Regions from separate parts of the Homo sapiens genome. Here regions 1 and 3 are each linked to region 2. The links come from fine-mapping of genetic effects on gene expression. A gene starts in region 2. Each other region holds a variant in brackets. All regions are shown on one strand. Distances are between the middles of the regions.

Evidence for each region. PIP is the estimated chance that this variant, and not a neighbour inherited with it, causes the effect.
Region 1: its variant is fine-mapped to the expression of MTMR9 in whole blood (INTERVAL, PIP 0.98).
Region 3: its variant is fine-mapped to the expression of MTMR9 in stomach (GTEx, PIP 0.96).

The regions. Positions count from the first base shown.
Region 1 is chr8:11,235,442-11,243,717 of GRCh38, reverse strand. No RefSeq gene overlaps it. Among named protein-coding and RNA genes, the nearest start is that of XKR6, 38 kb to the right of the region's middle. The variant G/A (reference allele first, on the strand shown) is at 3,812.
Region 2 is chr8:11,279,866-11,287,865 of GRCh38, reverse strand. It overlaps MTMR9 (myotubularin related protein 9), which reads right to left and starts at 3,050. Exons shown (of 10, transcript NM_015458.4): 1 at 2,796-3,050. The coding sequence starts at 2,977. It overlaps LINC00529 (long intergenic non-protein coding RNA 529), which reads left to right and starts at 3,835. Exons shown (of 5, transcript NR_170283.1): 1 at 3,835-4,015; 2 at 6,445-6,577. RefSeq lists silencers at 2,962-3,371, 6,864-6,913 and enhancers at 3,065-3,566, 3,842-3,901, 3,992-4,081.
Region 3 is chr8:11,257,210-11,265,485 of GRCh38, reverse strand. All of the region lies in intron 4 of LINC00529 (long intergenic non-protein coding RNA 529), which reads left to right. Among named protein-coding and RNA genes, the nearest start is that of LINC00529, 23 kb to the left of the region's middle. RefSeq lists an enhancer at 3,172-3,466. The variant C/T (reference allele first, on the strand shown) is at 4,468.

The DNA.
Region 1 (8,276 bases), 44 kb after region 2:
GCTGCCCAGCTACCTTGGATTAACCGAGAGGGCAGAAGGCTGAGTGATGATGTCAGGCAAGGTGTTTGGTTAGTTTTCCACATTCTTCTGGAGTTAGGTCTTCACAGTGAGGTGTAGTTTTTGTGTGATGTCGTATTAAGCAAGCCTTTTTATTCTGAGGCTTGGCCATATTGGGGACTTGTTGATGCTGGAGGGACTGCCCCACCCAGGGTTAGCCAATTCTTAGTGGAAGCAAAGAGCTCTTCTGTGAGCATGCCTTTGACATGCGAACCAAGCCACCCAGACCCCACCTCCCAACCACCTCCTTTGTGGGGCTCCTGCACTCTGGGCCACCATCACTGCAAGGCTACGTTCCAGGCAACTAGGAGCAGCCTTTATGCCCCAGAGCCCACTGAAAGGATTCACACTAGCCAATCCTGAGCCTGCTCACCTGCCTCACCTATTCTTTCCTGCAGAAGTCACAGTAAAGGCTATTACCCACACTTCTCCTCTCTACCTTTGCCTCCTGGTCAACCCCAGTGCTTCTCCATGTGTCCCCCACTCCCACCATCACGTGGTGTGGCATGCCTTGCCCCTTCTCTTGGGAACTGTGAGTAACAAACTATCTTTTCAATGGCAGTTGCCTTCTGAATCATGTTGAAACCTACATTTCACAATAGACATATTGTCAAGTTCCAGGACACCAGATATTTATGTTTAAGTGTAGGTCCCAGGACCATTTCCATTATCTAGAAGGAATATTTCCTAGGGATAATAAATAGCATAGCTTATTGAAACGGATTAGGGGCCAGTGTCGATCAGAGTTCAATCAGAGAAGCAGAGGCACTAGCATACACATCTCACTAGATACACCACCAGGGTACTTGTATGGCAAGCAGCCTTGTAAGAGAGCAATAGGGTTTCCATCAGCAGCAAAGGGCAGGCTTGTTTACTGTCTAAAATGATAAAGATTTCGTCTCCCTCCAGAGCAAAGTTCATACAAGCTTACTGCCCAATATAAAAGGCTTGGGCTTCCAAAGCTTGAGCTTCTTCTCTAGGAAAGTCACCCACTGCCTCTGGAGATAACACCTGGCTCTTGTCACATTAGCCTGCAGGAATTGGGACTGGGGAGATGAACACAAATGCTGACACTTGGTTACTGCTATTGCTATGAGTAATGAAGTCCTTTGTCTCTGCCTCTGTTGTGTCTTCTGCCAGCAACCTTGAAAGTGTGGCAGGCTAACTTGTTAGACTGCAAGTAGGGTGAAATCTCAAACCTTTCCCAGCTCTTGATATTTCCTAACCAACACCAGTCTCATGGGTCAGGAAGGAAAGGGGCTTGTTCCTCTCTCTGTCACTGGTCAGTGATAATGGCCTCCTTAAGGGATCACTCTACATCCACCTCTGGAGGGACAGACATCAGGAGTCCAAGCCAGGATGCTCATACAAAGGAAGAGTTGCTGATGAATGAGCCATGCAGGTCTCACTATCAGCAAAACCAGGCAAAACATGCAACTCCTTTTGGGAAAGCCCCTGTGTTCGTCTGCTGAGGCTGCCATAACAAAATGCTATAGACTGTATAACTTAACAGAAATGTATTTTCTCACAGCTCTGGAGCCTGGAAGTTCCACATTAAGGTGCCAGCAGATTTGGCTCCTGGTGAGGGCTCTCTTTCTGGCTTACAGACAGCCACCTTCTTGCGCCATCCTCACATGGCCTTTCCTTTGTGGGTAAGTGGAGAGAGAGCCCTCTCATATCTTTTACTCTTCTGGTAAGGACACCAGCCCCATCAGATTAGCGCCTCACTCTTTTTAAACCTTAAATCACTACTCTAAACGTTCTATCTCCAAACACAGTCACATTAGAGGTTAGTGTTTCAACATATGAATTTGGGAGGGGACCCAATTCAGTCCATGGAAGCCCCTATCTGGGGAACTCACTCCCAATATTTCAATGTAAGTTATTTCTATTTTCCATAAGTGTTGGCCAGCTGAGAAATAAAGAGAAAGAGTACAAAGAGGAATTTTACAGCTGGGCCGCCAGGGGAGACATCACGTATCGGTAGGACCGTGATGCCCACCTGAGCCTCAAACCAGCAAGTTTTTTATTAAGGGTTTCAAAAGGGGAGGGAGGGGGTGTCATAACAGAGAGTAGGTACAAAGATCACATGCTTCAAAGGGCAAAAAGCAGAACAAAGATCACATGCTTCTGAGGGAACAGGACAAAACGGCAAAAGCAGGACTACTGATAAAGGTTTATGTTCAGCGGTGCACGTATTGTCTTGATAAACATCTTAAACAACAGAAAACAGGGTTCAAGAGCAGAGAACCGGTCTGACCACAAATTTACCAGGATGGAATTTTTCCCCACCCTAGTAAGCCTTTGGGTACTGCAGGAGACCAGGGCATATCTCAGTCCTTATCTCAACCACATAAGACAGACATTCCCAGAGTGGCCTTTTACAGACCTCTCCCCAGGAATGCATTCCTTCCCCAGGGTATTAATATTAATATTCCTTGCTAGGAAAAGAATTTAGCGATATCTCTCCTACTTGCACATCCATTTATAGGCTGTCTGCAAGAAGAAAAATATGGCTCTTTTTGCCCAGCCCTGCAGGCAGTCAGACCTTATAGTTGTCTTCCCTTGTTCCCTAAAAATCGTGGTTATTCTGTCCTTTTGCAAGGTGCACTGATTTCATATTGTTCAAACACACATGTTTTACAATCAATTTGTACAGTTAACACAATTATCACAGTGGTCCTGAGGTGACGTACATCCTCAGTTTATGAAGGTAACAGGATTAAGACACAAGTAAAGACAGGCATAAGAAATTATAAAAGTATTATTTGGGAACTGATAAATGTCCATGAAATTGTCACAATTTATATTCCTCTGCCACGGCTCCAGCCAGTCCCTCCGTTCGGGGTCCCTGACTTCCTGCAATAAGGCCCCAAATAGCTGTGAGTGAATTCAATCCCATTCACACTCAACTTAAAAATGTGATCATATATCTTCAACCATCTGCTTGAGGGAGGAGGAGCAAAAGGCAAGTTCTGAAGAAGACAAAATGGAGAGAAGGACTTAACAAAGTGCAAGTAGCCCTTTGGCTTCCCAGGCAGGTTTCTCACAATTTTCTCCATGGTCTTTTGCTGCTCAAGTCAACATCTCATGCCATGGTGTTTTCCTGTGGAAAGCTGTTGCCCACTTTGTACCTTAGAGGAAGTGTGTGAAGAGCAGGTCATCCAAGCTCCATTCACATCATCATGTGGAGAAGGTACATAGAGGAAGTGGCCAAGATGGGGGAAGAGCTCTGAGGCAGAGCTGGTGGGAGTCAGAGCTCCAGCAGAAGCTGCTTGGAGTGGAATATGGGGGTCCTTGTTACCAAGCCAGGGAGTCACGAACATTTGTGTGGGATGCTGAGCAGGAAAGCAGCATGCTCAGACGTGTGTTCGAGGAAGATTGTGGTAGAAGTACCATGCAGCTGGACCAGAGGGTGAGGAAAAAGGCACAGAGAGAAGTTAGGAGTCTAACACAATAGCTCATGTTATGGGCTGCATGGTGTCTCCCCAAATTCCTATGTTGAAGCCTTGACCCCCAGTAACTCAGAATGGGCCTGTATTTGGAAATAGGGGTTTTAAAGGGTAATTTAGTTTAAATGAGGTTATTGGGATGGGCCCTCATCTAATATGACTGGTGTCCTTATAAAAACAGACTACGGGCCGGGTGTCGTGGCTCACACCTGTCATCCCAGCACTTTGGGAGGCTGAGGTGGGCTGATCATAAGGTCAGGAGATCGAGACCATCCTGGCTAACACAGTGAAACCCCATCTCT[G/A]CTAAAAATACAAAAAAAAAATTAGCTGGGCATGGTGGCAGGCACCTGTAGTCCCAGCTACTGGGGAGGCTGAGGCAGGAGAATGGCATGAACCCAGGAGGCAGGGCTTGCAGTGAGCTGAGATCGTGCCACTGCACTCCAGCCTGGGCAACAGAGCGAGACTCTGTCTCAAAAAAAAAAGAGATTACGATACAGCCATGCACAGAGGGATGACTGTGTGGGGACAAAAAAGAAGACAGCCATCTGCAAGCCAAGGAGAGAGGTCTCGGGAGAACCCAACTCTGCTGATATCTTGAACTTGGACTTCCAGCCTCCACAACTGTGAGAAAGAAATTTCTCTTGTTGATAAGCCACCCAGACTGTGCTGTTTCATTATAGCAGCCCAAATGGACTAAGACATCATCTCTCTGCCAAAAGAGAAAGGGGAGTGAGTGGATTCCAGGACTGAGGAGAGTCAACCTGGAGAGGTGTCTAAGGGATGCCAGGCAGCCAAAAAAAGTACACTGGGGCCTTGTCAGTAAGACTGGTGGACTAGACAGCAGTGGAGCCTGAGAGGCAACAGGTTAGTGCTCCAAAACTTGTGAGAGGGAGGCAGGTGAGAAAAGGGGGACTCGGGATGCAGCATTAACACCAGCAAATGCAAGGCTCATGAGACTGGAGAGAACCTCAGACACCATACCGAAATCTTTGGTTAGCTGGCTCCAGTCTTGCTTGGAGATGGGGTCAGCAAGGTCCTTCAGAATGCCAGTGAACACAGGTCTCTAAGTAGCTCCCATCGCGGGCTCCAAGTCCTGTAGAAGAGAAGTCAGCAAGGTCAATGCATGAAGCCCCTTGGTGCATATCTGAGATATTTTCTCTACTACGGTAGCAAAGATGTAGTGCATCTGTACTTTCCAATATATATCTACGACTTTTGGTACATTCGACAGACATCTGTTCCGTGCTCTTAAGCACCTGCCAGCCATGGAGTTTCAGATGCATTTCTTAGATAAGCGAGCTTCTTTCCCATTGCAAATCACAGAGTGACAAAAGCACAGATCCTTGCTAGGGCTGCAGGCTGCTGGCAGTGTCACCCAAAGGCTGCTTTCTAAGGAAAACATTCTGCTGGGGTTTTTTTTTTGGACAACACGGTTTCATGTGCTCATTTATTTCACACCCATGTTTTAAAAATTATTCTTTTCGGCTGGAAATATATCTTCACCCATGATAATAGATGGAAATTGTGAGCTGCTTACAGTTCCCAAGTGACATTAGCATATGTACTGAGTTTCTTCTTGAATCCCACCCCTCCTCGCCTTTTTGCTTTTCCATCTTTTTCTGGTTCTTAGGAGGAAATTTTTAAAAGAACACACTGCCTGGATAATATATCTCATACTCACCTTCCTTCCTCCAACCTTCTTACTGGAGAAGGTGGAGAAGCTTCAGATTCCAGTCCTTCAACTTTATTTTCGGCCTGTAGGAGCATCCTATTCACACCTGTGCCCTCCTCCCCCTTTTCCTGACTTTGCCTAGCCAGCCCATACCTTCTCCTGCCTGGACAATTACAATGTCCTTACCTTCTCCAAGAGGCCCTGCAATCTTCAGTGTTTCCTTATAATCCATCATCCACACTGCAAACAGAGGTATCTCTCTAAAATTGTAAACTGGGTTGTGTTAAATTCTACTTCATGCTTCGGTGATCCTGTTACCTACAGAATACATCCAACCTCCTTACCACCATACTCATCTCTCACCCTCCTGCCATTTTACTCCAATACTGCATGTGATTTCAAGTCATTCTGCTGAGGCACATGGTTCTTTTCTCTTCCCCAAATACCCTTTTCTTCCTTGTCCAGCTGGCCCACCCCCAGTCACTCTTTGGGTCATGGCTCAAGCGTTGCTTACTCTTGGAAACATCTCAGCCCTCCTAAGCTGAACTGATCACTTCATCAGAGGCTCCTAGACAAACCCTGGCATGTGCCCCTGCGTGTCTCCAATGTCTGCCGCCTTGATGTCACCTGCTTGACCAAGTACCTGGCTACAAGGGCTGACATTCCTCTTCTTTGCAACTCCAGCATGAGCCCAGTGTTGGGCTCAAAGTAGACTCTTTTAAAATATATTGAGGCCAGGTGCAGTGGCTCATATGTGTAATGTCAGCACTTTGGAAGGCTGAGGTGGGAGGATAGCTTGGGTCAAGGAGTTCAAGACCAGCCTGGGCAACATAGTGAAACCTTGTCTCTACAAAAAATAAAAAAAATCAGCCAAGCATGATGGCACATGCCTGTAGTCCCAGCTACTCAGGAGGCTGAGATGAGATTATCGCATGAGCCCAGAGTAGTTCATGATTGCAGTGAACTGTGACCATACCACTGTATTCCAGCCTGTACTCCTGGGTGCCAGAGTGAGACTCTGTCCCCCAAAAAATAAATAAATAAAAATAAAATAAACTATTTGAATGAAAAAGATACATTGAAATGGTTTAGGTGGCTGATGGCAGTCGTAGGTCCTACTCTCTGTGTTTATTGGAAGGGTCACTCCAATTAAACAAATACTGATGGACCACTCATTCTGTGCCAGGTTCTCTCTGAGTACTGAAGGTACCCAGATGAACAAAACATCATTCCTTCACTGAGTGAGCACACACCTGAGCAGTGAAGACCAGCAAGGAATATCAATAGCACAAAATGATAGCTGCTATACTTATAGGAGCAGAATACCATGCCAAAGGCTCCCGAGCATAGCTGCACATCCAAATCTAGGAGTTTTAAAAAAATGTATGTCTTGATCTTATTGTTTATGTATTACTGCTTCACAAATTACTCCAAAACTTAGCAGCTTGAATCACAAACCTTTATTATATCACGACGTTGCTGTGGGTCTAGAGTGTGGCAGCAGTTTTCCTAGGTGGTGTTAGTATTGACACTGGGATTTCTCATGAGATTGCAGTCAAGATGTCAGTAGGGGCTTCTGTTATCTGAAGTCTTGACTGGGGCTGGAGCCTCTCACATAGCTGGCGAGGTGGTGCTGGCTGTTGGCAGGAGACCTCAGTTCCTCACCACGCGGACCTTTCTATAAAGCTTCTTGTGTGTCCTCATGATATGGTGGCTTTCCTCAGAGAGAGAGAGAGAGCAAGATAGAAGCCAAAATGCCATATATGGCCTAGATCCAGAAGTCACATTGCATTGTTTCCACAATATCCTACTGGTTACACAGGGCAGCTCTATTTGGTGAGTGAGATGGCTACACAAGATTGTGGATACTAGGAAGTAAAGATCAGAGGGAGCCATTGGAGGCCGGCTACAGCCTGACTCTTACCCCAGGGAATGAATTCAGTGTGCCTGGGTAGGGCCCAAGGTTCTGCTTATTTTGCCTTTTCTTTTCATTATCGTGGCTTTTTAACTTTTTATTGAAATATAATATACATACAGAAAAGTATACAAGTCACAAGTGTTATCACAAGGTGCATAATTTTTTACAAAAGACACACACCCATGGAATCTATACCCAGATCAAGAAACAGAGCATTGTTCAGGTGCAGTGGCTCATGCCTGTAATGTCAGCACTTTGGGAGGCTAAGGTAAGAGGATCACTTGAGCCCAGGAGTTCAAGACCAGCCTGGGCAACAAAGTGAGACTGTCTCCACAACTTGTTTTTAAATTAGACAAGTGTGGTGATGTATGTCTGTAGTCCCAGCTACTCAGCAGGCTGAGGTGGGAGGATTGCTTGTGCCCACGAGGTTGAGGCTGCAGTGAGCTGTGATCACACCATGCACTCCAGTATGGATGACAGAGTGAGTCCCTGTCTTAAAAAAAGAAAAAGAAAAAGAACATTGCCAGCTGCCACCTCTTCAGGGGCCCTCATTACACTCTCTTCCAATCACTAAACTCTCAAGAGTATGTCTTCATGACTTCTAACAACCTAGAATCATTTGTCTATTTCAAAACTTTATAAACATGGAATCATATAATAGGTACTTATTTGTATCTGGCTTCTTTTCACTTGACATTATGCTCATAAGAGTTTTCTGTATTGTTATGTGTGGCTGTTTTTATTAATTCTCATTCCTACATAGCAGCCCCTAGAGTTAAATACCTATTCTGCTGTGTACAAGTGTTTGGCTGCTATGCCCAATGCAGCCACGAATAGTCGTTTAAGTGTCTTCTGGTGAATATGTGTACCTTTTTATGTGGTGTATACACCTAGGAATAGAAATGCCGGGTCATTACAGCAGGCATATGTTCAGCTTTATGGAGACTGTAGAACAGGTTTTCAAAGTGGTCCTACCAATATACACTCCTATCAACAGTCGATGAGAGTTCCAGATCTCCAATACTTAGTATTTTCTGTCTTTTTGATTTTAGTCATTCTGGCTGGCATAAGGTGATATCTCATTTTGGTTTTAATTTGCATTTTCCTGATGACAAATGAAGTTAGCACATTTGCCTAGGTTTATTGGCCATTTGGACGTCCTCTTGAAGTGACTGTT
Region 2 (8,000 bases):
TAATATATAACATATATAATAAAATATATAATGTTATATATTATATATTATATGTATTATATAATATGTATTATATATAATATATAATAAATATATAATAAATAAATAATAAATATATAAGAAAATAATATATAATATATAATATATATTATAATATATATAATATATAATAAACATAATAAATATAAATATATCTAATAAATATATATATTTATTTCTGGACTTGCTTGATTGTCCATCTCCCTGGCCAGTACCTAAGCATCTTGTCTTAGTCACCACTGCAGCCGCACAGCTCAGACAATGCACGTGGAAAACAGGTGGATGTAAAGATTTCTTGAAAGCAGCAATTTAACAAACTCTGATCTGATGCCTCCCCTATGCTCTTTCACTACACCACGCTGCTTCCCAGGAAAAGGATAAATGTGTGTACAGTTCGTCATTCTCTCCTAACAGATTCAAAGGTCCATGGCTCATCTGCTTCTTCTTCATGTACTACAAAGCCCAGCACCTTGTAAATGCAAGGTAAAAAGGAGGAAACAAATGAGCGCAAAGTAACCACCATAAAAGGTAAATAAGAAAGGAAAGGTAGTTGATGGTCATGGAGAAACTACTCAGTTGTATTCAACGGCATCTGACCATTCAGCGGTCAATCCTTCTTTTGTTTCCTACGCGTCTATATGCCCAAGCCACAGTTAGACGTTTCGAAGGAGATAAAAATGAATTCCAGTTGTGGAATTAACAGAAGAATTTGTGAAGGAGGTAGCGGTCGAAATGGTTAAACTGAATACTCATAGACAGGTAACAGGCTCATTGCCTGTGAACTCCTGAAAGACAAGAACTGTAACATATTTTATTTACCTTGGTGTCTTAAATGCCTAACAAAACGTCCAGAACATAAAGGCATTTGGCAAATGTTAAACAAACTTGGGAGAGGCAAGGCATTCCAGCAGAAGGAAGAAGTCAATAAAATACACAGATGACAGAATACAGGACATATACCAGCACCAGTAAATAGTGAGGACTGGCTGGTAAAAAGCGTTCATGAAAGCAAGTGCAAGAAAGGCTCGTTAAAAGAAATGGCAAGAAATAAAGTGAGAAAGTAGGATAGGGCCGAGACACAGAATGCCATGAATGACTGAGGGGTTTAGATTTTCAATGAGAGACCACTGAAGACTTTTTTTTTTTTTTTTTTTTTTTTTGAGATGGAGTTTTGCTCTTGTTGCAAAGGAAGGAGTGCAGTGGCCCGATCTCGGCTCACTGCAACCTCTGCTTCCAAGGTTCAAGCGATTTTTCCGCCTCAGCCTCCTGAGTAACTGGGATTACAGGCACCTGCCACTATGCCCGGTTAATTTTTTGTATTTTTAGTAGAGACGGGCTTTCATCATGTTGGTCAGGCTGGTCTCAAACTCCTAACCTCAGGTGATCCGCTCACCTTGGCCTCCCAAAGTGCTGGGATTACAGGCGTGAGCCACCGTGCCGGGCCCACTGAAGACTTTATACAGCAAAAGGTGGCTTGAGGAGACTAATAAGAGCCCCCTGCTCATATCAATCAATCAATCTACCATGGCTTCACCCAAACTGCCTGCAATTCTACCATTAGAAATTTTTATTTTAGGCCAGGCGCAGTGGCTCACGCCTGTAATCCCAGAACTGTGGGAGGCCTAGGCGGGAGGATTGCGAGGTCAGGAGTTCAAGACCAGCCTGGTCAATATGGTGAAACCCCATCTCTACTAAAAAATACAAAAATTAGCCGGGTGTGGTGGCGCGTGCCTGTAATCCCAGCTACTCGGGAGGCTGAGACAGAAGAATCGCTAGAACCTGGGAGGTGGAGGTTACAGTGAGCCGAGATTGGCCACCGCACTCCAGCCTGGGCAATACAGTGAGATTTCGTCTCCAAAAAAAAAAAAAAAAAAAAAAGAAAGAAAGAAAGAGATTATTATTTTAAGGCATATCCTCTGTACGAATCTTCCTAATATCCAAATTATCCTGTGAGGCAATAGAAAATGTTGTCGTCATTCATTTATACTTCTGTGTAAAACGGATAATCAGTTTGCCCTCTCCTGGCTAGCGAGTAGCCACTAAGGAGATGGGAATTTTGAATGCAGATGAAAGTTTAACTTTTTGACTTCGAGGCACTGCCTTGGAAAGATAAAGTCTGGAGTACAAAAAGAAAAAAGAGGTTAACTGGTCCATGCCTTTCCTTGAGAGCCAACCCTGTTCTTTCAGCAAGCAGAATTGAGTAAAGATGAAGAGAAGACATCAGAATCTCCCTTAGTGAGAATTAAATTTTGATGACCCAGAAGGTAAGAAATAATATGATACACTGAACATTTTTCAGAAATTAAAAAAATGGTTCTGTAGCATGTAGACACTCATAACTTTATAATCTGTTTAGTTTTCCTCAGAAATGGTAAAGACTTTACCTAAATCACATCCAATCACTTCATGAACGGTGACTGACAATACCAATTCAAGGAATACGATGGGGCAAGAAGAAGAAGAAATTTATAAAGACAATGCCGAAAATCCACCCAAATGGTGTTACGAACCAGAAATGATCATCAGGATGGTACCAGCCACACGATAACCCTGAGAACTCCATCCAGGTTTAATGGAAACCGGGTCCTCCATCTGGACGGGTTTCAGCTTGGTAAATCCTGATTCTAGGCCACAGAGGGCTCATCTTGCCGGCTAGCTGGGCGGCAGGCTGCGCGGAAAACGCCAGGAAGTATTTCCCGGGGCGCCCACAAGGGACCCCCGGCTCCCTGCGGAGCTGGGGTGGGGCGGGCACTCACCGCTTGTCGATGGCGTCGATGTTTGAATGGAGGAGCCACAGCTCCTCCGTATTGTCCTGCCGGGAGGACAGGATCAAGTGGTGGCCCGTCAGGCACAGGGTGCCCTCGACAGCCGGGTAGAAAGGCCGGTGCAGCACCACATTGTCCACCCGCGGGGTCTTAATCAGCTCCGCAAACTCCATGCTCCCCCGCGGCCGGAGCCAGGGAACCGAGCCCGGTAGGTGCGAGGCGGTTACCCCGCCGCAGGGAAGTAGCGGAAACACCCGGCGCGGGGCTGGCCCGTGGGGCGGGGCGGGCCGGGCGGTGAGGCTGGGCCCGCCCCAGGCTGGGTGGGCGCGGCGAGGCCTACAGCCGCCGGCACCGGCCGCGGGGAGACAGGGGCTGGGGCTGGACGAGGCCCAAGCGCCTCTCCCGCACCGCGCGGTTCACCAGGCCTAGGACTCGGCCACAGAGAACCCCTCTCCACAGGCCCAAGGACCGCCGCTGCCGTTGGGCTCCGGGTCCCGCGTTGGCAAGCGGAGGGCAGTAGGAGAAAGCCGCCTCAGAATCCGCTTCCACGCCCTGGCCGCTAGGGACTCCTAGCGGAAGTGGCTACTCGCTGCTGGAGCCCACAACAACTCCGGGCGGAAGCAGCAGGTCTCGAAACTCGGAAGACGCGGAAGTCGCAGCCGGAAGTTGGTCCTCGCTAGGTCCTCTGGAAATGCCTCCGGAAACACAGCCAGACCAGAAGATGTGTGTTCCTACGAGAAAAAAAGCTTGTCTTTGCCTTCACGCCCTCCCGCTGCCTTTCTTAACCACCTACAAATATTCCTTATCAGAAGAGGTCCGGGAAGAGGGAGGAGGTCCCTGTCTTGCCTTCCTCCGCTTGAGTAGTATCCCCTCCAGAAGCTCTTCAGAGCGTGGGGCTGCTGTAAATTGTGATAATTGTTATGCATTAGCCCTGAAGACATGGCAAGTAGGGGATGGAGGCGGTGACTGTGACCTTACGGAATCCTCCAGGGGTCAGGGAGGGACACAGGGCCACTCCACAGGCTCTCCGAGAGCGCCGCGCCACGAGGTGTAACCTGGAGCAAGAAAGAGGAAAAACAGGAATACCTGTGAGAGGAACCCAAGTACATGCAGTGCACAGAAGAGCAAGTCACTTGACTTGCTGGCGGCCACCCCGTTAATCTGCAGCAGAGCCTGGACTTCAGTCTGCATCTGTGAAACCCAGCGCATGGGTGCGTTGGTCACCACCGCACAGCCTCCCCGTCAGACACCCACGTTTCGCCAAAAATTTATTCAAATAATTACTCCTTTGCTTGTTCCTTTCCCACCGCCCACTTCTGACATTTTTATTCAAAAGTAGGAAATAGAAGAGAAATATGTTTGAGTGCTGGTCTGCTGTGACTTCATTGACCTTTTAAATCCTCACCATCTAGTACCTAAGCACAGCGAGTTGGACAAACTCTCACAGTATTCACAAAGTAAATTGCCACAACCTCATCAGCTCATCCAACACTTGTCCATGCTTTTGATTTTGTCCTTCTTAAAATGTACCCTTCTTAAAATAAACCACTTTATAGACTTGTTTTAAGTGAGATACGTAAATGCCTACCAACTTTCCTTGGTGTCTTTGTTGCATAGTTACTGTAGACTGAATAATAGTTGCCATTTTTTATATTTTTGCAGTTTAATTGCTTTCGTCCAAATAGATGGAATCACTTCCTTTGTAATATATGAAGTGTTTTAATTCATTTTTATAACTAGCATTCCTGACAGCACAGGTATCCACCCCCTGAAGTTCCCATTCTATAGAACAAAATAGCAAATAAGTATTTTTTTTTTGTTCCATAATGGACACCCAGTATACACCCAGTATACACAGGGACACCGCATACAGGGAATCAGCTTTATTTTACAACAGAGCTTCACTTTACCCCTCTGGCAATTAATAGATTCTGGGTATTTATTAAGAACTTTAAATTTAATGCAAAGACTGTTAAATACCACCAGCTCAGCTCTGGCAAAGGACTGTTGGCTTTGTTTATCTCCTATCTTCATCCAGATACACTGCCATCCCTATCCCAGCCCGATCTTGGGTCCTTGAAAAAAATGACCTATCATTCCAACTACCAGGGAGGAACTCCCTTTGAATTAATGAATCTGGATGACTTATAAGACTTCAAAAGTATGGAAATGACAAAGGTTAAAATGACAGGATGAGCAGTAAACCCTCTCCAGTCCAATCAGAGCAACCTTTTTGAGGGTGCATTCCCACAGAAACCCATTAGGGGCCCAACATCAACATACACAGAGCTAAAATTCCAGATGCCACTTTGTATTGAAAGAAGCCAAAATTCTGTTCAGGTCGTGGGAACTTGAAGTCTTCAATGCAACCACACCCCAGAAATTAACCCTCACACAATCATGTAAGCTATGCAATTAACCAAACTGCATCGTTTAGAAAACCTGTATGCTTTTCATGGAAACCATCCCTAGTTAAGGGCACTTTAAAGGATGCACAGTCTAAGTACTGTGAAGGTGGGCCCACTAGCTGGGTTGACATTTTCGCTTGGCCACTTTAGTAGGAAACTTAACCACTTGGGAAAGTGAAAACAACAAGCTAACCCACATGTTCACCATGGAAAACAATTTTTGTCTTGAAAAACAAGGAACCTTTTCCCTGTGCAGCACCAGTTCCTACTGTGTTTACCAGCCAATTGGACTGGAACCTGTACACTTGGTTTTTAGCCTCCGAAATCAATATAGCTCCCGGCCGGGCGCAGTTTCTCACGCCTATAATCCCAGCACTTTGGGAGGCCGAGGCAGGCGGATCACCTGAGGTCAGGAGTTCGAGACCAGCCTGGCCAACATGCTGAAACCCTGTTTCTACTAAAAATACAAAAAATTAGCCGGGTATGGTGGCGCACACCTGTAATCCCAGCTACTCTGGAGACTGAGACAGGAGAATCACTTGAACCCTGGAGACAGAGGTTGCAGTGAGCCAAGACTGAGCCACTGTGCTCCAGCCTGGGTGACAGAGGGAGACTGTCTCAAAACAAACAAACTATATATATATGTGTATATATATATATATATTTAGAGAGAGAGAGGGAGAGCTCTCAACAACCAATCCCTCATTATACCTTTAACTGCAACCGCCAGACACAAATGAGCAATCCAACTCAAACGCCTTTTTGTTGGGCTAGGAATAACAGTGAGAGCAGGAACGGGAGTTACCGGGCTTGCAACTTCCCTATACTGTTACCAGCACTTTCCAAGGATTTTGTGGAAAGCTTGGATGACATTGCCCAAAGTATCGTCACAACACAAACTCAAACAGACTCCTTGGCAGCAGTTGCTTTACAAAATAGAAGGGGACTGGATCTCCTAACTGCTGGAAAAGGTGGCTTATGTCTTTTTCTAGAGGAAGAATGCTGTTTTTATGTCAACCAATTAGAATTAGTAAGGGATGCCACCCAGAAATTAGCTGACCAGGCTTCTAAGATACGACAACAGCTGTCCAAGTCGTGGTCCTCCTGTTCAAAAATGCTAATTAGGGGTTCATGAGTCCTTCCTCTGACTGGCTCGTTGTTAATTATACTTGCCTTGGTTTTTGGACCATATTTATTAAATACATTAACCAAATTAATTTCCTCTCGCCTAGAGACCATCAAGCTTCAGATGATCATGCAACAAGGTTTCCAGCCAGTTCAGGTGAAGACACCACTACTGGCCATCAAGAAGCTACCCTGTATCCACTAGACAGAGCAGAGTGAGAGTTCTGTGATCCCAAATAGGTAGGCACCGCACCCCAAGTCAGCATGAAGCAGTTACAGAAGAAAGACCATTGGTCCCTCTGCCTCCCATAAAGATTTATGGGGATCATGTCTCACAGCGGGAAAATGAGACAGGAGAATAGGGTCTAGAGGCAGGGAACCTAAGGCCAATTCTCACTGACTTCCTAGAACTGAATCAGAGGGGAAACCCCACCTCTTCACACGAATGTAACGAAAGGATCAGAGGCTACTCCCTTTGCACTGCACTGCAAATGAAAAATGGAAAGTACCTCTGATTGGTCCCCTCCCACAACCATTCAGACTGGTTGCAGGCCAAGTCTTCATGTGTAACTTTGTAACTACCGTCACTTCAGACTCTGATTGGTCACCTCCCATGATCAGTCAGACTTGTGACGGGCCACTCCTTCATTTACATAGGGTGTAACCAAGTAACCAATGGGAAACCTCTAGAGGCTATTTAAACCCCATGCTGCACGATGGCTCACACCTGTAATCCCACCACTTTGGGAGGCTGAGGAGGGTGGATCACAAGGTTAGGAGTTCCAGACTAGCCTGGCCAACCGACATGGTGAAACCCTATCTCTACTAAAATTACAAAAATTAGCCAGGTGTGGTGTGGGCCTGTAATCCCAGCTATTGGGGAGGCTGAAGCAGGAGAATTGCTTGAACCTGGGAGGTGTAGGTTGCAGTGAGCCAAGAATGTGCCACCGCACTCCAGCCTGGGTGACAGAACAAGACTCCGCCTCAAAAAAATAAAAAAATTAAGCCCCAGAAAATTCTGTAACCAGCGCTCTTGAGCCACTTGCTTGAGCCCGCTCCCGCTCTGTGGAGTGTACTTTTGTTTCAGTAAATCTATGCTTTTGTCGCTTCACTTTTTTGTTGCTTTGTTTGTGAATTTTGTCCAATTCTTTGTTCAAAATGCCAAGAACCTGGGTGATTTGTAGTCAGTACTCTCCACCAGTAACAATAATATTGTTGCACCTGAGAGTCCAGTCTAAAAACAAGAACCAACAGAGTAGGGAAGATGAGGGGGGATGATTTACAAAGTTATTTTTTTAAACTGGAGTTTTTGACTTTCTTCATTTATGTGGATAAGTTATAACAATTACCAATTGTGGAATGAAGAATTTAATTACAGAGTGAAGAATCAGGGAACGTTTTATGGAGAAGGTATCATTTGAAAACAGGACCTTGAAGGATGAGGGTCACACTCTGAATGGAATGTGGCCGACAGAGATGTCCAATTTAGTGATATCTCCTAGAGGTGGGGATGCATTTTTCAGTAATTCCATTACCTTTTTCTTTTAGTTTCTTTATGTGGGGGGAGGCACATGAAAAGCTCATGGTTTCATTAAGTGAAAAATGTTTACTTTTCTATAACACCATGAACTTTTTTGCCCATGAAAGAAAATTGTCAATATCA
Region 3 (8,276 bases), 23 kb after region 2:
CATAATTTATAAAGAAAAGATTGGCTTCCTTGGCTCATGGTTCCAGGCTGTACAGGAAGCATAGAGGCTTCTGCTTCTGGGGAGACCTCAGGAAGCTTTTAATCATGGCAGAAGGCAAAAGGGGAGCAAGGTATCTCACATGGCCAGAGCAGGAAGAAGAGAGTGAGTGGTGAGGTGCTGCGCACTTTTAAACAACCAGATCTCACCAAAACGCACTCACTATCACGAGAACAGCACCCAGGGAACGGCGCTAACCCATTCATGAGAACTCCACCCCCACGAGCCAATCGCCTCCCACCCAGCCCCACCTCCAGCACTGGGGATTACAATTCGACAGGAGATTTGGTAGGGACACAGAGCCAAACCCCATCAGCTCAACTGTGTTGACTTTTTGTCTTTTACAGTTTTGGAAGTCCAATACTCAGAACTTGCTTTTCACCTCCTGACCAAAGGACACTGTGGCAGCATGCCAAAATGTCTTTTTGCCTTTAAACTTTCTCACCTGAAAGTCCAACATTGACCAGAGGGTCCGTGTTGTTATAATGCCTGGGAGCCACTGAGCTCTGGCTTGTGGTGAAGATACAACTGGCTGAAAGGTCGTTGAATCTGAGTGCTGAGTACGTAAGTGTTTTCCATAAACAGAGTGGCTTAAACAATATAATTTTTTTTTTTTTTTTTTTTGAAACTGAGTCTCACTCTGTTGTTCAGGCTGTAGTGCAGTGGTGTGATCTCGGCTCACGCTAACCTTCACCTCCCAGGTTCAAGTGATTCTCCTGCCTCAGCCTCCCAGGTAGCTGGGATTACAGGCACCTGCCACCAGACCCGGCTAATTTTTGTATTTTTAATAGAGACAGGGTTTCGCCATGTTGGTCAGGCTGGTCTCAAACTCCTGACCTCAGGTGACCCATCCACCTCAGCCTCCCAAAGTGCTGGGATTACAGGCGAGAGTCACTGCACCTGGCCCAACAGAAATTTACTGTCTCACAGTTTTGGGAGCTGAAAATCTAAGATCAAGGTGTCAGCAGGATTGGTTCCTTCTAAGGGACAAGAACCTGTTGCATGCCTCTTCCCTGGCTTCTGGTGGTTTGCCAGCAATCTTTGGCGCTCCTTGCTTTGTAGTTACATCTCCAAAATCTCCACCTTCATCTTCACATGGTGTTCTTGTGTTCATGACTGTCTCTGTGTCCAAATTTCTCCCATTTTAAATGACAGCCATCATATTGGATAGGGCCCACCCTACTACCTCATCTTAACTTAATCATGTGCCTCCTCCCCACAAAAAACCCTTTGTTCACAGACACTGGGGGCTAGGAATTCAATATTTTGGAAGAGGAACACAATTCAACTCACAATTATTATATTATTATCTCTACTTCTGCACACATTTGAGATTTTCCTGAGTGAGTTTCAAAAAATCTGCTATAGCTCTAGAACACTCTATCAAACAATAGCAAAATGTATGTTCTTTTCAAGTGAATATGGAATGTTCTCTAGGGAAGGCTTTATGCTAGGTCATAAAACAAACCTCAGTAAATTTAAAAGGATTGAAATGATACATAGTATCTTCTCCAACCACACTGGAATTAAATTAGAAATCAAAAACATAAAGTAATTTGGGGAACCCACAAATATGTAGAAATTGAACAACATACTCCTAAATAGCCAGTAGGTCAAAAGAAAAATCAAACTGAAAATTAGAAAATACTTTGAACTGAATTAAAATGGAAACCGCAACATTCCAAAACTTATGGAATTCAGCTGAAGAACTGCCTAGGAAAAATTATAGCAGTAAATGCCTATATTAAAAAAGAAAAAAAACTCAGAACAATTACTTCCATCTTAAGACACTGGAAAGAGAAGACCAAACTAAACCTAATTCAAAAAAGAAAGGAAATAGTAAATATTAGAATGGAAATTAATGAAATAGAGAATACAAAATGGTAAAGAAAAATCAGTGAATCCAAAAGCTGGTTCTTTGGAAAGGTAAACAAAAATAACAGAATTCAACCAAGACATAAGAAAGAAGACTTAAATTATTAGAATTATAGAAACGATATCAGTTTTTCACAAACTTTTCCAAAAAACGGGAGAGAAGGGATGCTTCTCAGCTCATTCTATGATGTCAGTATTACCCTGATTCCAAAACCAAAGACATCACAAAAAAAGAAAACTACAGATCACTATCTCTTATTACTATGGATACAAAAATCCTCCACAAAATCGTGGCAAATCAAATCCAGTGACATATAAAAAGAATCATACACTATGACCAAGTGGGATTTATTCCAGGAAGGCAAGGTTAGCTTAACACCTGTAAATTAATTATTGTAACAGACCCTATCAATAGAATAAAAACCGAAAGCCACATGCTCATATTAATAGATGCAGAAAAAGCACTTGACAAAACCTAACACTCGTTTTTTGATTAAAAACCACAAGAAGATACCTCTTAGCACCTACCATGATGGCTATAATCAAAAAGATAATAAACTTTGGTGAGGATATGGAGAAATTAGAACCCTCATACATTTCTGGTGAGAATGTAGAAACGATGCAGTCACTTTGGAAAACAGTGTGGCAGTTTCTCAAAAAAGCTAAACATAGAGTAACCATTTGAGCAGCAATTCCACTAGTAGGTATACACCCAAGAGAAATGAAAACGTATGTCCATATGAAAACTTGTACATGAATATTTATAGCAGCATTAGTCATAAAGCAAAAGATGGAAACCCAAATATTTATGAACTGTGAATGGACAAACAAAAGGTGATATATCCATAAAATGAAATATTATTTGGCCACAAAAAGAAATGAAGTCCTGATACACGCTACAACATGAATGAAACTTGAAAATATCATGGGAGGTAAACAGTCACGAAAGACCACCCATGACATGATCCATTTATATGAAATGTCCAGAATAAGCAAAATAAAGGGACAGAAAATAGATTGGTAGTTGCTTAGAGCCAGGAGTATGGGGGAATTGGGGAGTGAAGACTAAAGCAAATGGGAGTCTCTTTTTGAGGTAATGAAAATGTTTACAGTGGATTATGGTGACGGTTGCACAGCTCTGTGAATATACTAAAAACCACTGAATTGTACATTTTACACTGATGAATTGTACAGTATGTAAACTGTACCTCAATAAAACGGCCACAAAAAGAAAAGTAAGGAGGAGTGAAGCAGGATAAGGAAGGTTAGGAGGCCATACTCACTTACTGACTTTTCCCCTGGCGTAAAGCCTAGTGGGCTCCGCATCCCTTGCACCCTCTTACGTCAGCGCCTGACTCTTTTGCAAGATAAACAGTCCTGCAGGACACCAGCCAACTGCCTGATGGTTACAAGTTCCTAATAGCTAGCACAGCCCGGGAAAGAGACTTATTCATAATGTAGCTTCCCCAGTACCTAGCCAATCAGCATCCAAAACCCAAGAAGCTATTAGCTGCAAATTACTGCCTTGGGGCAGGAGGGCTGAGGATTGCTCCAGGGTCCCACCTGTGCAGCTAGGCTCAAGGTTTAGCTCATAGTAACCTTTTCTTCATTTTAATAGTAAAAAAACACACCCCTAGGCGGAGATTTTATATGCTAATGATACATGCATTGCATGTTACAGCATGCAGATGCTGAGCGCATGTGTCAACCGCAGGTCTGTCTTTACGTACTTGACCTCACCAGTATTTTATGAATATATACGAACAATTCCCGCAAAAGGAATTCCTCTGAAGGCACTAGTTGCTGTCTCTCCCTTTAAGCAGCCCACTCAGCCTCTCAGAGGGTACTTTCGCTTTACAATAAGCTTCTTTGGCTACTCTTCCTTTGGAGTCACTCTCAAATTCTTTTGTGTGGTGAGATCAAGAACCTAAACTTACCTACCGACCACGGGAGGAGGAGGCGGCCTTCGTGGTAGCAAATAGCAGCAGCAGCTACTAAAAGCAGTCATACACAGAATCATGGGGTGAATGCCTAAGCGGTGTTTCAGAGAGTATGGTGTAAACCAGCACGGCCCAGTAGGTATTTCCATGATGTCAATATGGTCACCACTAGCTATACGTGGATCTTGAACACCTGAAATGTATCTAGAGAGACTGAGGACATCAATTTGCAAATCTTTTTTATGCGTTTGCATTATGGGTTGTTCTGGTTCTAAGGAAACAAATTTTTTCACCAAGAAATTCCTGATTTTTACATGTCCATGCATTATAAGAAAGAGTCTTAAGCTAACTCGACTAGACTAGTTCACTAGTTAACCCAGACTTGCCATCGCTTTCACAGACAGAACTCGATATGATCAAAATGAGACATTTTCAAGAGGCTCTTGAATCTGAGGATGTAAAAAAGCCCAATGTCCAATGGTTGCCTACGTCACATCAGGAACCACTGTTCCACCTGCATTGATTCCCATGCCCCTTTTCCACGCTGCTAGAAGGAAATTCACCCCACCCACTACTGCAATCAGGACAGGAAGTC[C/T]GACTGATCCAACAACACCCTTTCTCAAATAACTCTTTCGGAGATAGGTCTCTGTTGTCAAATGTCACTTCCCCACCTTTAGGAAGAGAACAAGTAGCAACATACAAATACTGGTTATAAGCAAGTTGATAGCTATTTTTAAACTAATTAAGAGCCCTTCAATTTCAAAAATAAAAAGTGTTCGTAGTAATTTGTGAAACCTTTAACACTAGCCAATCCATGCGATACCAGATGTGTGAACTGATTACATCCCTACCACAGCTAACAAAATGGTGCAGAAATGAAAATGGGAATAGTTGGGATAGTCTGTCTCCCAAGGGAATTAGCAAATACAGTTGGAAAGTCTTGCAAATTCAATACAGCTCCTATTTTGATGGTTTCTAGAAGTTAAAAAGAACATTAATGAATAAGATAAAGAATCTCAGACCCCCCAAAGCGCAAAAAAGTTTAAGAAATTATGCCAAAACACAAAATGCTTTAGACACGTGGCCCTTTAGGAAAACCTTTCCACCTGACAGAAATAAAGTGTGAAATTTGCCTAAATGCACCTAGCTGAAAAGCTATATATTGTAATGACACGTATGGATATTTTAAAGGGTTTAAAGAAATCTGTCTTCTGGAAACTGAAACATCCAATAGTTTCCTTCTTGGAAAAGGAGATTTTCAAATGAGAACAGATTTTTTCAAATTAATTTAATTATTAAGACATTCATCAAAAGTATATATCTTTCAAAACAATGTGAATATACTTAACATCTATAACTATAAACTTCATAATGGTTAAGATGATAAAAATAAAGGTATATATTACCCTAATTAGCATAAAATTAAAAAAATTTAAACTATGTATAAACAATTAAGTCATTAATAGAACTGTGAAAAGTGTTCCTGTTTTCTAATATTAAATTACATCTCTCTCTAAAAAGCTTTTGGATCAGAAAAAGGAAAAATGCAAATGTTAGTTTAATAACATGGACTTCCTACTGTTGAATTACAAGAGAAGAAAGAGGTGTAAATAATCATTAAGCCACCAATTAGTAGTCAGATGACGGCTTCACAAAACACCCTTCCGTGTTAGAAATTTAGGTAAAATGTAAAGGAATTCAGTATTACTTACTAAAAATAAATACAGAAGAATTATATAAAAATCCATCATGCATACTTAATGAATTATAGATCTTGGCAAAATAGATAGCTACATATTTTCTCTTTGATTTTATCACGGTGTAAGAACATAGTATAAATGTAACTCTTTATGCATAATTTTGGAATTATCATCTTATCTCAAGCTTAACTAAATAGAATATCCTAAGGTCCTTCTACTTGTCAGGTAGGTTATCAGTGCTAACACCATATATTTAAGACTAGAAATGTAAACGTATGTATTTATTTAATGAAAGCTGTAACAATTGATGTCTTCATATAAAACACTGCTAGTTAGGTGAGCCTATAGAATCACTTCACCTTTACTGTGGGAGTTTTAAAGAGTTTTATTTCTAATAATTACAGTGATTATATTTTCTTTAATGTCAAATTAAAATAGATGTTCTAAGATGCCTAACTGACTTGAGACCTTTAGCTGATTATCAGCTGAAGTAATTAGAGAATAGTCTTTATGTATCTGGAAATTTTCCAAGGAAAATATTTTAAATTATAAACAAAGAGAAAGAAAGTACATGCTCGTGGTTTTGGCTTATGTCTTTTTGCCCATAGAAACATATATATATATTTATAACACTCAAATGAAGATAGTACAAATAGACCTAATATACTTGATAAGATTAGTTCTGTTTAGAAAATTCAAATTTCAAAGGGCTGAGTAGTGTTGTCATTTTAACATTGTTTGGTGTGACACATGCCTACACGTACAGGTTTAAATGCACTTAAATGTGTCTCTTCCCCTAAGCAGAGTCTGGGGTGAAGACTTGCATTCAGGACTTTTTCTGGGAAGTCGTCCTAGGGAGCAGGAGTGAGGGGTAGGAGGAGTGACTCAGAGGAAGGTAGAAAGCCAGCCCACGGCGGGGGGTCATCAAGGCAGTCACAGCCAGTGCAGTTGCTGCTCAAACTTTCAGGACCTTTGGAAGAGATTCCTGAAATGCATTGCAGATGGCAGGGGAGGCATTTCCGATCCACTTCACCCCAGTCACTCAGGGGTAACCGCAGTGGCCATCCTGGGCAAGGCATCAAGCAGTCTAAGGGTGCAGGACGTGGGGGTAGCCCATCAGAGCCTGCTGGCAGGCGTGGCCACTGAAGAGGCTCAGACCCTGCGCTGGCACTAGCTAGCAATGTATGGTGGCGCCACCAGGACCCTGACACAGGTGTGTGGTATGAATGAAGGAGAAGGAATGGGCACAGCCATGCCCACTGTGTCTGGGCCAGCATCTTACATGATTCTCCTCCGTGAGGCATGATTTGTAATTTTTTAGGGCAATTTTGGGCTTAGAGAAGAATTGATTGGAAAGTATAGAATTCCCACATATCTCTCCCTGCCCAGGCTCCCCCCTCACATTTCCCTATTATTTACATCTTGTATTAGTGTGGTACGTTTGTTATAACTGACAAACCAATTCTGATACGATCTAGCGTTCTATACGAATGATGATAGTTAACAATAATATATTGTTTCAAATAGCTGAGGGAAAATATTGAACATTCCCAATGCAAAGAAGTGATGAAATGTTTCAGATGATGGATGCACTAATTACCGTGACCTGATGTCTACACGTTGTATTTATGAGAACATCACTACATACTCCATAAATTATTTGTCATATTTGTGTAATTATTATTTATCAATTGAAAAAATAGAATTAAAATATATTTCAAAAAGATTTTCACCAACACTATCAAGAAAAAAATTTACAAATTTAAAATTTAAAAAGTTACCAATAAATAAAATAAAAATACCAAAAAAAGATACAGAATTATTATTAACTAAAGCCTGTAGTTTATATTAGGCTTCACTCTTTGAGTTGTACATTTGCTGGGTTTTGACAAATATATTATGTGTATCCATTATTATTGTAACATAGGAAATAGTTTCACTGCCCTAAAAGTTCCCTTCCTCTGGATTTTAGTTTACTTTCTGATGCTGTTTCCAAGATCTAGCCCCAAATTCACAACCTGACAGATTTTTTTGAATCTCCACCATGTTTGATTTTTCTAAAACAGCCCCTTGGTGGTGCCTAGACCAATGCACGTGCCCGTTGCTGGGGAGACATACACACGCTAGAAAGACAAGAATCAGGTCTGGCGCAGTGGCTCACACCTGTAATTCCAGCACTTTGGGAGGCCGAGGTGGGCAGATCACATGAGGCCAAGAGTTTTAGACCAGGCTGGCCAACATGGCAGTATCCTGTCTCTACTAAAAATACAAAAATTAGCCAGGCATGGTGGTGCACGTCTGCAATCCCAGCACTTTGAGAGGCCAAGAAGGGCAAATCGCATGAGGTCAAGAGTTCAGGACTAGCCTGGTCAACATGGCAACACCCTGTCTCTACCAAAAATACAAAAATTAGCTAGGAGTGGCGGTGCATGTCTGTAATCCCACCTATTCAGGAGGCTGAGGCACAAGAAATGTTTGAACGAAGAGGCAGAGGTTTCAGTGAGCTGAGATGGCACCACTGCACTCCAGCCTGGGTGACAGAGTGAGGCTCTGTCTCAAAAAAATAAAATAAAAACAAAAATAAAAAAAAGACAAGAATCAGCACCTGGGTACAAAAACACTGGAGATAAATTTTATTTCATGTTTATTTATATAACTAATTGTGTCACCTGCAAGCAGCATAACCCTGGAATATCTGTAAAGG